Regions from separate parts of the Homo sapiens genome. Here region 1 is linked to region 2. Evidence: fine-mapped expression QTL. A gene starts in region 2. The other region holds a variant in brackets. All regions are shown on one strand. Distances are from middle to middle. Region 1 overlaps ZNF446 (zinc finger protein 446). Region 2 holds the start of MZF1-AS1 (MZF1 antisense RNA 1).

Evidence for each region. PIP is the estimated chance that this variant, and not a neighbour inherited with it, causes the effect. A credible set is the group of variants that fine-mapping cannot tell apart.
Region 1: its variant is the best candidate, but not a certain one, in a credible set for the expression of MZF1-AS1 in esophagus muscle (GTEx, PIP 0.73).

What each region holds. Positions count from the first base shown.
Region 1 is chr19:58,478,870-58,483,243 of GRCh38, reverse strand. It overlaps ZNF446 (zinc finger protein 446), which reads right to left. Exons shown (of 7, transcript NM_017908.4): 5 at 3,517-3,601; 6 at 3,225-3,314; 7 at 2,014-3,068. The coding sequence ends at 2,518. LOC112268251 (a long non-coding RNA gene) reads left to right here. Exons shown (of 3, transcript XR_007067366.1): 2 at 798-1,829; 3 at 2,057-2,147. Among named protein-coding and RNA genes, the nearest start is that of ZNF446, 4.7 kb to the right of the region's middle. The variant G/A (reference allele first, on the strand shown) is at 2,058.
Region 2 is chr19:58,557,327-58,561,700 of GRCh38, reverse strand. It overlaps MZF1-AS1 (MZF1 antisense RNA 1), which reads right to left and starts at 2,515. Exons shown (of 6, transcript NR_027334.2): 1 at 2,292-2,515. It overlaps UBE2M (ubiquitin conjugating enzyme E2 M), which reads left to right and starts at 3,090. Exons shown (of 6, transcript NM_003969.4): 1 at 3,090-3,428. The coding sequence starts at 3,320. RefSeq lists enhancers at 1,734-2,330, 2,476-2,735 and a silencer at 2,866-3,165.

The sequences.
Region 1 (4,374 bases), 78 kb after region 2:
TGGGAATATAGGCATGAGCCACCACACCCAGCCTACTATTATTTTTAATTTTTTTTTTTTTTTGGAGACAAGGTCTCACTATGTTGCCCAGATTGGTCTTGAACTCGTGGTCTCCCAAAGTGAAACAACATAAGTTGCCTTAAAAGAAACTTTACATTCAACCACTTCTATATGTAAACTTCTGGAGTAAGCATTGCCATGAGACAGTTGAATTAGGGAACATTTTCATGATCTTCTTTGCCATCTTGTGTATTTCAAATTTTTCTAAGTGAGCATAAATTGCTTCTAAATGTGAAAAAGTTTATTTAAAAACTGCCCTCACCCCCTGCAGCTTTTCTTGCATGATCTGGCCCTTTCACAGCCTTCTATACCCTGACTCTCCCTTCTGGGCTGGGGCCTAGCTGGAGCCCCTGGGTACTGCTCTGTCTTCTTCTTCTCTGTCCCCAGCACAGCTCTCGCCTCCTGCTTGCTCACAGATCACCCACCCCCAGCTCCATCTCCAAACTGGCCCTGCTTCCGGAGCCCTGCACATGGGAGCAACGGGTTAGAAGGCCCTCATAAAAGGGGATGGGGAAGATGGGCCTCTGAGGAGAGCCTCCCTCTCCCAGCTTCAGGCCGCAGCAGGGTTCCTGCCCCTCCCAGGGAGCCCCTCCTGGGGTAACCACAGTCGCAGCTACCCTCAACATCCACCTGCGACTTGTGCACATGCTGCACATACCAGCAGCTGGCGAGGGCTCCTTCCGAGAGGGCACCCATTTCCTGAAACCATCCCCTGTGAAAATGCCCCTTGTTTTCAGAGTAGGAAGGAGAAGAGTGCTGAATCAAGGCCCCCAAGGAGTCCCCATTCCAATCCCCAGAAGCTGTGAACATCTCAATTGGCAAAAGGGACTCTGCGGTGTGACTAAGTGTGCAGGTAGGGGACAAGATATGATGAGGGTCCTTAAGGAGGCCAAAGGATCGATGGGTGTCAGAGAGCTGGCAGCCTAAGGAAGACGTGACCAACCATGGCTGGCTTTGAAGACGGAGGAATGGACCAAGAAAAAAAAAAGGGGGAACGTGGGCTGACTCTAGAAGCTGGAAAAGGCAACAAAATGGATTATTCTCTCCTAGAGCCTTCAAGAGGAACCAGTCCTGTTAAAACCTTGATTTTGGCCGGGCGCGGTGGCTCACGCCTGTAATCCCAGCACTTTGGGAGGCCGAGGTGGGTGGATCACGAGGTCAGGAGATCGAGACCATCCTGGCTAACACGGTGAAACCCCGTCTCTACTAAAAATGCAAAAAAATTAGCCGGGCGTGGTGGCGGGTGTCTGTAGTCCCAGCTACTCAGGAGGTTGAGGCAGGAGAATGGCGTGAACCCGGGAGGCAGAGCTTGCAGTGAGCCGAGATTGTGCCACCGCACTGCAGCCTGGGCAACTGAGCGAGACTCCATCTCAGACAAAACAAAACAAAACAAAACAAAACAAAACCTTGATTTTAGCCCAGTGGGACCCATGTCAGAGTTCTGACCTTCAGAGCTATAAGAGAATCTGTTGTTTCAAGCTGCCAAGTTTGTTAAAGCAGCAACAGAAAACTAATACAGTGCATTGGCGAGTCCCCAGTGACTGCCCAGAGATCCGGTGCTTCCCAGGGAGCTGACCTTTTGCCTTCCTGCTGCATGACCAGCTAACTATGGAGGGTGCGGCCTGACCTAGAAGTACCCATGGCCTTGGCGCAACCCCTGCTTGCAGCCCCTCTTCTCAGAGGTCCCCCTTGTCCAGCCGTACTTCGAAAGGAAATCCCCTTTGTGTCTCTCAAGCCGGGACTGATGAGTTCCAAGGCCAGTGAGGCTGGTGAGTGATGTGGGCGGCAAGGAGCAAGGGAGGCTGGGGACCTGGGACCTGGGTTCTGTGGCAACAGAGGTTTGGCCGTTCTGGGCTCAACTGCCCTGTGCTGCAGCTACTGGGCAGAGACAGCAAACTGCCTATTTCCCGACCAGCAGAAGCCAGAAATCAGGATTCTTATTCAGAAACTCCATATTATGAAAGTGGAATTTATGTTAAAATTCTAACACACACAGG[G/A]AGCAGGAGAAACGGAAGCCAACTGTGCTTTCCTGGGTCTTCTGCTGCTCTCCACACTGAGACCTCAGGCCCAGCCTCTGCACAGACGAGTGGGAAGGCACAGTTTTTGAACACCCACCTGAGGCAAGGAGGTCCCAGGAGAGGGAGTGTTGTCAGCCCAGGCCATGTCACAGGGAGGGAGGGAGCCTGGTGCTTGGCAGTCACCCCACAGGCACTGGTCAGCCATAGAAGGGAACCCAGACCTCCCTCTAGGAGGCAGGGGCAAGAAGAGAGAGAGCAGCTCCTTTTCCTTGCACCCAGGTCTTTTGGGGGAGACCAGACCAGGGGCAGGGAACTGGCTTGGGACCCCTTGTTCACTCTGGCATCCCCTGCTGCCTCCAGAGTCTTCTGCTGGTGCCCCAGAGGCTGTATCCAGGCCCCGAGAACACCGAGGCCCCGAGGGACTGTGCTGTCTGGCTGCTCATGGAACCTCCGGCCGGTGGCCCTTGCGGTGGATGACCAGCTGCGACTTCCAGTCGAAGGCGCGGCCACAGTCACTGCAGAAGTGACGCCGCTGGCCTGTGTGGCTCTTGCGGTGGATGACCAGCTGCGACTTCCAGCTGAAGCTGCACCCGCACTCCTCACACGGGTAACTCCGGGGGCCTGTGAGTGAGCGTCGGGGGTGGTGCGGAAAGGCCACCTCCCCTTGTGGTGGCTTCTCTGTGCTTTCCCCGGTGGCTAGCCCCGGGGACTGCACACCTGGCCCACTCGTGTGTGTCCGGTGGTGGATGACGAACACTGACTTCCAGTCGAAGCCGCGGCCACACTGCTCGCACGTGTAGGGCTTCCTGGGGGTGGCAGCCGGCTCCAGTCTCGTCTCTGCAGGTGTGGGCTGAGTGGGCACTGGCGGTGTCCCTGGGCGCACAGTGGGGGCAGGAGTGGCAGCCCCAGACAAGCCCTCCCAGGCTGCCGGCCCTGGGCCCTGGGGCGGCTGGGCCTCTGGGCAGCCAGGTGGACCCTCACTCTCATTTCCTGGGGGCAGGGGCAAACCAGGTGAGTCCCGGCACTCAGCAACCCCTCCCTCAGGCTTGTGGCCGTGGCACAAGCTCCCGTCCCCCCATGAGTGGGTGGCTCAGGTCCCACCGATACAGGAGGGGTGATTCAGGCTGGATGGTGTGGGGCACTCACCCGAGCGCAGGCTTCTGCAGACGCCTGTCCCCGTGAGCAGCATCCCCAGCTCTGACTGGGCCTGTGCCTCTGGCTGGTGGGGCGGTAACCCTGCCCGGGTGGGGGGCACAGTTAGGCATGGGGTTTGCATGAAGGAGGGGTGGGGTCGGTTCTGGTAGGTGACAGGGTGTTCCTCTGGAAGGTGGGAGAGCTGGGTAGGGCTGGTAGCACAGAGGCCCTGCCCAGCTAGGCCTGCTGCAGGGTGGGTGCAGGCCCCAGGGAGAGGGGCGGGGTGGGGCTGGCTGGTCCTCACCCAGGGAGACCACTGTGCCGTACTTCTCCAGCATCGCATCCCAGTACAGTTCCTTCTGTGACCGGTCCAGCAGCCCCCACTCCTCCTGCGGATGTGGCCCATCACTGTAGGCGTCTTTCCACCCCTTCCCTGCCCTGTCTGGTTCACATTCTTACCTATTACCCGGAAGAGTCAGCAGGTTACCTACGCCTCATCTGCCCCTCCTGCTGAGAATGATCTCAAGGTGTGTGTTTGTTAAGTGCAGAGGTTCTCCTTCAGATCACCTGACCAGTGCTGCTGCCAGCACTCATCCCCCTCTACTACACCATCCTGCTCAGAGGGCAGGTTTGGCAGCATCACAGGGACCTGAGTGACTTTATCGAGGAATGAACTCCCTGATTGGGGGTCAGCCCTCCTTGCTGCCTGAGTCCCATCATCTGGGGCTTTGCTGGGTTGGGAAAAATAATCCTGAGGGACAAGCTGTGGCAAGTCCAGGGGCAGGAAGGCGGCAGCTGTGAGGAGCCACAGCTAGAGATGGTGCTGGCTGGAGGTGAGGACACTGGGAAGTGCAGCCTACCCACCCTGCCTCACTTTCTGACTGTGCCATGGGGCTGTGGAGGGAGCCTGGAAGGACTTCTTAGCCTCGAAACACATCTCAACCAGCAATGTTGCTGCTGAAGCTCCCCAGTGGAGTTGTTAGAGGAGCCGGGAGAGGAAAAGACCTTGCTACCCACACTTGGGAACCAAGCGATCCAGGTAGAAGAGGCCTCAAGCTGAGCTTCCAGGCCTAACAGGTGGCCTCTGAAGAAACCCCTAGGAGAGAAGGGACTTCGGGCATTTCCCAGGGAGAGTGTCTCCATCTGGTCTCAGGTGTGGGGG
Region 2 (4,374 bases):
AGCAGGTGGGGCAGAACTGCCCTGGGCAGTCCAGCTTCAGCTCTCCCTGGGCAATGGACCTCGGTTTCTCAAACCCAGAGAGGAAGAAATGTTCTCTGTGAGCATCCACCAAGAGTACATATGTGCATAGCATGGTGCCATGCCTGATCTGATTGAGTCCCATCAAGAGACAGAGCACAGCTAACTAGGTGTTAGGTGATTGATGGGAGAGTGAGAAGGTTAAGTCAATCTGTCTTAGAAATGGGAAAGTTCCTGCAGGAAGCAGCTAGACCCTTAGGACTAGAGGAACAAAGGGAAGCATTGCAACTTAGAAGCTCCAATGAGTTTCCCATGGAGCTGGAACTCAGGCCCCTGAGAAGAGGGCACTGCTGAGCCAGTCCTGGGGTCTCTTAGCTGGCAGGGAAGCCCTGTGGGCCTGAGGGGGTACTGCTCAGCTGGTCTGGAGGTCTCTGTTCTCAAGAGGGTGCCCCATAGGCCTAGGAGACTCCTGAGGGGGCACTGGTGTGGGTGTCTCCAAGGGGCCCAGTGAGCCTGGTTCTGGGAGGTATGTAAAAACTGTTGCTCCTGGAAGGACCTGCTGTTGCCAAGGGGAAGAGGTGGTGCTGGCCTAGTCTCTTCTCCCTTTCCAACCCCTGTTCCAGCCTGCCCTTAACAGATCTGCAAGTGAAGAGAGGTGTTTGTAGTCTCTGCCCTGCACAGTGATGCCTAGGTGGGTAGGTCTGGAGCCCAGCCTTGTCTGGTGATGAAATCCCATGGGATTTTCCCTTGACACTGAGACCAGGGCCTCCAAGGGCTGGGAGAACACTCAATCCTCAGGGAGGTTACCAGCCTCCTGAGCACCAGTCCTCCTTGCTCCAAGTCAGCGTTAATGATTCATTCCCATGATACTACCTCTCCCACCCCAGCTCAGCTGTACAGCTACCCTTACCCTAACAGCACCCTACTCCCTAAAGTGGTCCTGAGCGGCCAAAGCTTTCTACCTTTATCTACCTATCAGTAGGAGTACCCGCTGAAGAGTTGTACTCATGGGGACATTCAGCATCTCACCCTTAGTACTAGAGGAACAAAGGGAAGCAGTGGGGTCACAGCACTTCTTACAGCTGGGAGCCAAGGATCCCACTTGGATCTGCCAACCCCCAGGTTTGTGGGTGGTACTGTGCCTAAACTTGATGCCTGCAACCTGCATGCTCCCCTCCACACCCTGTCACGGCTGTCCCCTGGGCCATGGGCCAAGCCAAACCCCAGGAAAGGACCCAGACAGGCCAGAATCTCCCTAGCCAACCAAGATTATGCGATCCAGCAGGAGCAAACTGACACCTGGTGATCCAGATTCTGCCTCAGGATGTCTTTGTAAAACTCCTTTACACCTAGGAAACCATTTCCTAGTTTTAAAACTAGAAGATTTCACCTGGAAATTCAGATTTTTCAAGACTTTCCTGTTCTCGTGTTCACAAGCAGCAGGTGATGAGGGTGTAGGACCCTGCAGATGGAACCCCAGCCAGTCTGAGAAGCAAAGGCTGCAGGCCCTGGGCCAGTTTCCCTGCCCTGTGGTGATCATTCCCATCGCTAGAGCTGAAGGCTTCTCCCACCCTGGCCCCATGCACATTGGAAGGTTTCAGTCAGGAGTAGATTCAGCAGCAAACCAGTGGAAACGCAGCTTAGGTGAAAGTGGACAGATGCTGAGAGCATAAGTTCAGCATACTGCAGGCTTCAGGGCAGCGTCTCCAGGACCCAGTGCCATTGCCTGTTTTGCCCTAGCCATCTTCCCCTTCCATCCCATTGTCCAGGTCCTTCACACAGCCCCTCTCCCCCAACCCTCCAGTGGGTGACTTGGGTGCAGGTAACACAGGCTGAAAGGCAGTTTCAAAGAAGGGGCTTGGCCTTGGCCAGAAGCCACTCCTGGGGGAGCATCTGCAGAATCAGAGGAGTGGCGCCTGGGCCCCTCCGCAGGCAAGTGCCACACCATGCGCTCACGGGGCTGGCAGTTTCCGTGGTGACGGCCGGAAGTCGCTGACCGGCAGAGTTCCGTTTCCTCCCGCCCTCCGAGGCACGCTGAGCTGTGATTGGATGGGAAGCTGACCCCCGCCTCCATCCCCTTTTCCAGATAGTGGGGGAAGCGCAGAGGCTGCAGTGCGTGTCCGCTGGAACTTGAGGCCCACGCCAATAGCGGCCCGATTCCGCCCCCACGTCGCGTTCCCCAAGTGTCCACCCCGACAGGTCTTCCCCTACACCACTGTAACCCTCCACAGTGCTTACCACTCTCTGGCACAATACATGTTTTGTTAGTTTACCTCAATCAGAATCTCCAGGAACGGGGATCTTTGGGTTTGCGATGGGACAGGGAAGGTACTCGACCTCGCACCCTCTGGGTAACGCATCTAGTCTCACTCAGGGTCTTGCCGCGATCACCCTGCCTTGTCTGTGACCCATAGGGTCAAAGGCAGGCCGGGCGGGTGGCGGCAGCAGCGGAGGTGACCACCCGCGCCGCGCTCTGCACATATATACAACTTAAGATGAAGTGACCGCGAGCAAAAGCGGCCCACGTCTGCCCCACTCAAAGATGGCGACTAACTCCGCTTCCTGCCCGGCCCCGCGAAAGTCGCCGGAAGTGACCTGCAAGGCCGCCGAAGCGTCATCTCCATGAACGGAAATGCCCGAGTCCAGCCGAAGGAGGCCGAACCCCAAACTCCATCGCTGAGCAACGCGGGTTTGCGGCGGCTGCGCAGGCGCACAACGCAGGCCGGGCGGGAAGAGCCAAAGCGGGCAGGCGGCGGAAATATCCGAAGCGGCGGGGCGCCCGAGGCCGTTGCCGACCTCCGCGCTAAAGCCGCTGCTGCCGCGGAAGACGATCCTCCAGTACCCGCCCGCCGTCACCGCAGCTGCCGTGTCCTCCTCCCACCCCTAGCCGCACCCCCTCGCGGAGGGATCAGCTGAGCGGCCAAACGGCACGGTCGGGGGAGCCCCGAGTCCGCAGCTGCAGCGGGGCCTGAGACCAGAGTTGGCGAGGGCAAGGAAGGAGCGGCCCCGGGCAGTGGGGGCGGGGCCGGGCGGGCCCGAGAACAGCCGAATTTGGCCGAGCGCTGCCGAGCGAGTCCGAGGCGCTGGGCCAGGCCGGAGCCGGACTACGGGAGCCGAGGCGGGCCGCGCGGTGGGCGCGGAGAGGAGCGGAGCGGCGCGGCAGGCCGGGCGGGTGGCGGCAGCAGCGGAGGAGGCCGCAGCTGCGGGTCCGAGGAGCGGAGGCGACGCGGGCGGCGGCGGGGGGCCGGGTGGCCGGGGTCCCGGGCCCCGCGGCGGCGGCAGCGGCGGCGGCGGCGGCAGGATGATCAAGCTGTTCTCGCTGAAGCAGCAGAAGAAGGAGGAGGAGTCGGCGGGCGGCACCAAGGGCAGCAGCAAGAAGGCGTCGGCGGCGCAGCTGCGGATCCAGAAGGGTAGGGGGTCAGGGGATGGGGTTGGAGCCGGAGGTCGGAGGTCAGGGCCTGAGGCAGGGTGATGTGGGAGTCAGGAAGGGGTAATGCGGTTGCTGAGGGTCAGAGGTGAAGGGCCCCGAGCGTGGGGGGGGTCGGAGGTCAAGTCTTGAGGGTTGGGATCATGCAGTCACGGGGAGGGGGTCAGAGATAGGGGCCCGGTATGTGGTGGTTTAGGATATTAGGAAGGCCTGGTGTCTGCTACTAGGGACTCGGAATCTCAGAGTCAGGCAGTGGAGTGGAGGAACTGACGACTCGAGAGTCTGGGGGTTAGACGGGAACTTGGGTTTGGGGTGACAGGCGGAGAAGAGAGGGATAGTAGAGGCCAGGGGTTGGGGATATGAGTGGAAGAGGATTTAGTTTATTATGCTGGGGTCTCTGGGAATCTCTGAGTCAAACGGGTGAAGTAGGTTGGAGGACCAGGGACTCATGGGCCTGCCTGAGTCACAGCAATTTGGGGTTTGGGGTGACAGGTGGAGGAGGGAAGGTTAATGAGTACCAGGGATTGGAGACAGGGGTGAGGGGAAATTTAGGCTATTGTGCTGTGAACCTCAGAGTCAGAGGGGGTGGGGTAGGGTGGCGGGGGTTGGGGACTTGAGAGTGTGGGGGTCACATGGAAAGCTGGGTCTGAGAGACAGAGAAGAGGAAGGACAGTGAGGACTGAGGGTTGGTGGGGGTGGGCAGGATCTTTGAGTTTGGGTGAACAGGTAGATACTGTAGAGTGGAGGTCATGGATGGGGAGCCTGGGGTTTAGGGCGGTCAGAGGATGTTTGGGAGTGGGGGCATTTGGGAGCTGTGGATACAGAAAAGTTGGGGGTCACCCTGGGCCAGGAGTTGGGACACGCATACACAGCTGAACATGCATGTTTGGGGTATGCTGTGTATCCACAAGAGCCAAGCTGGGGAGCAG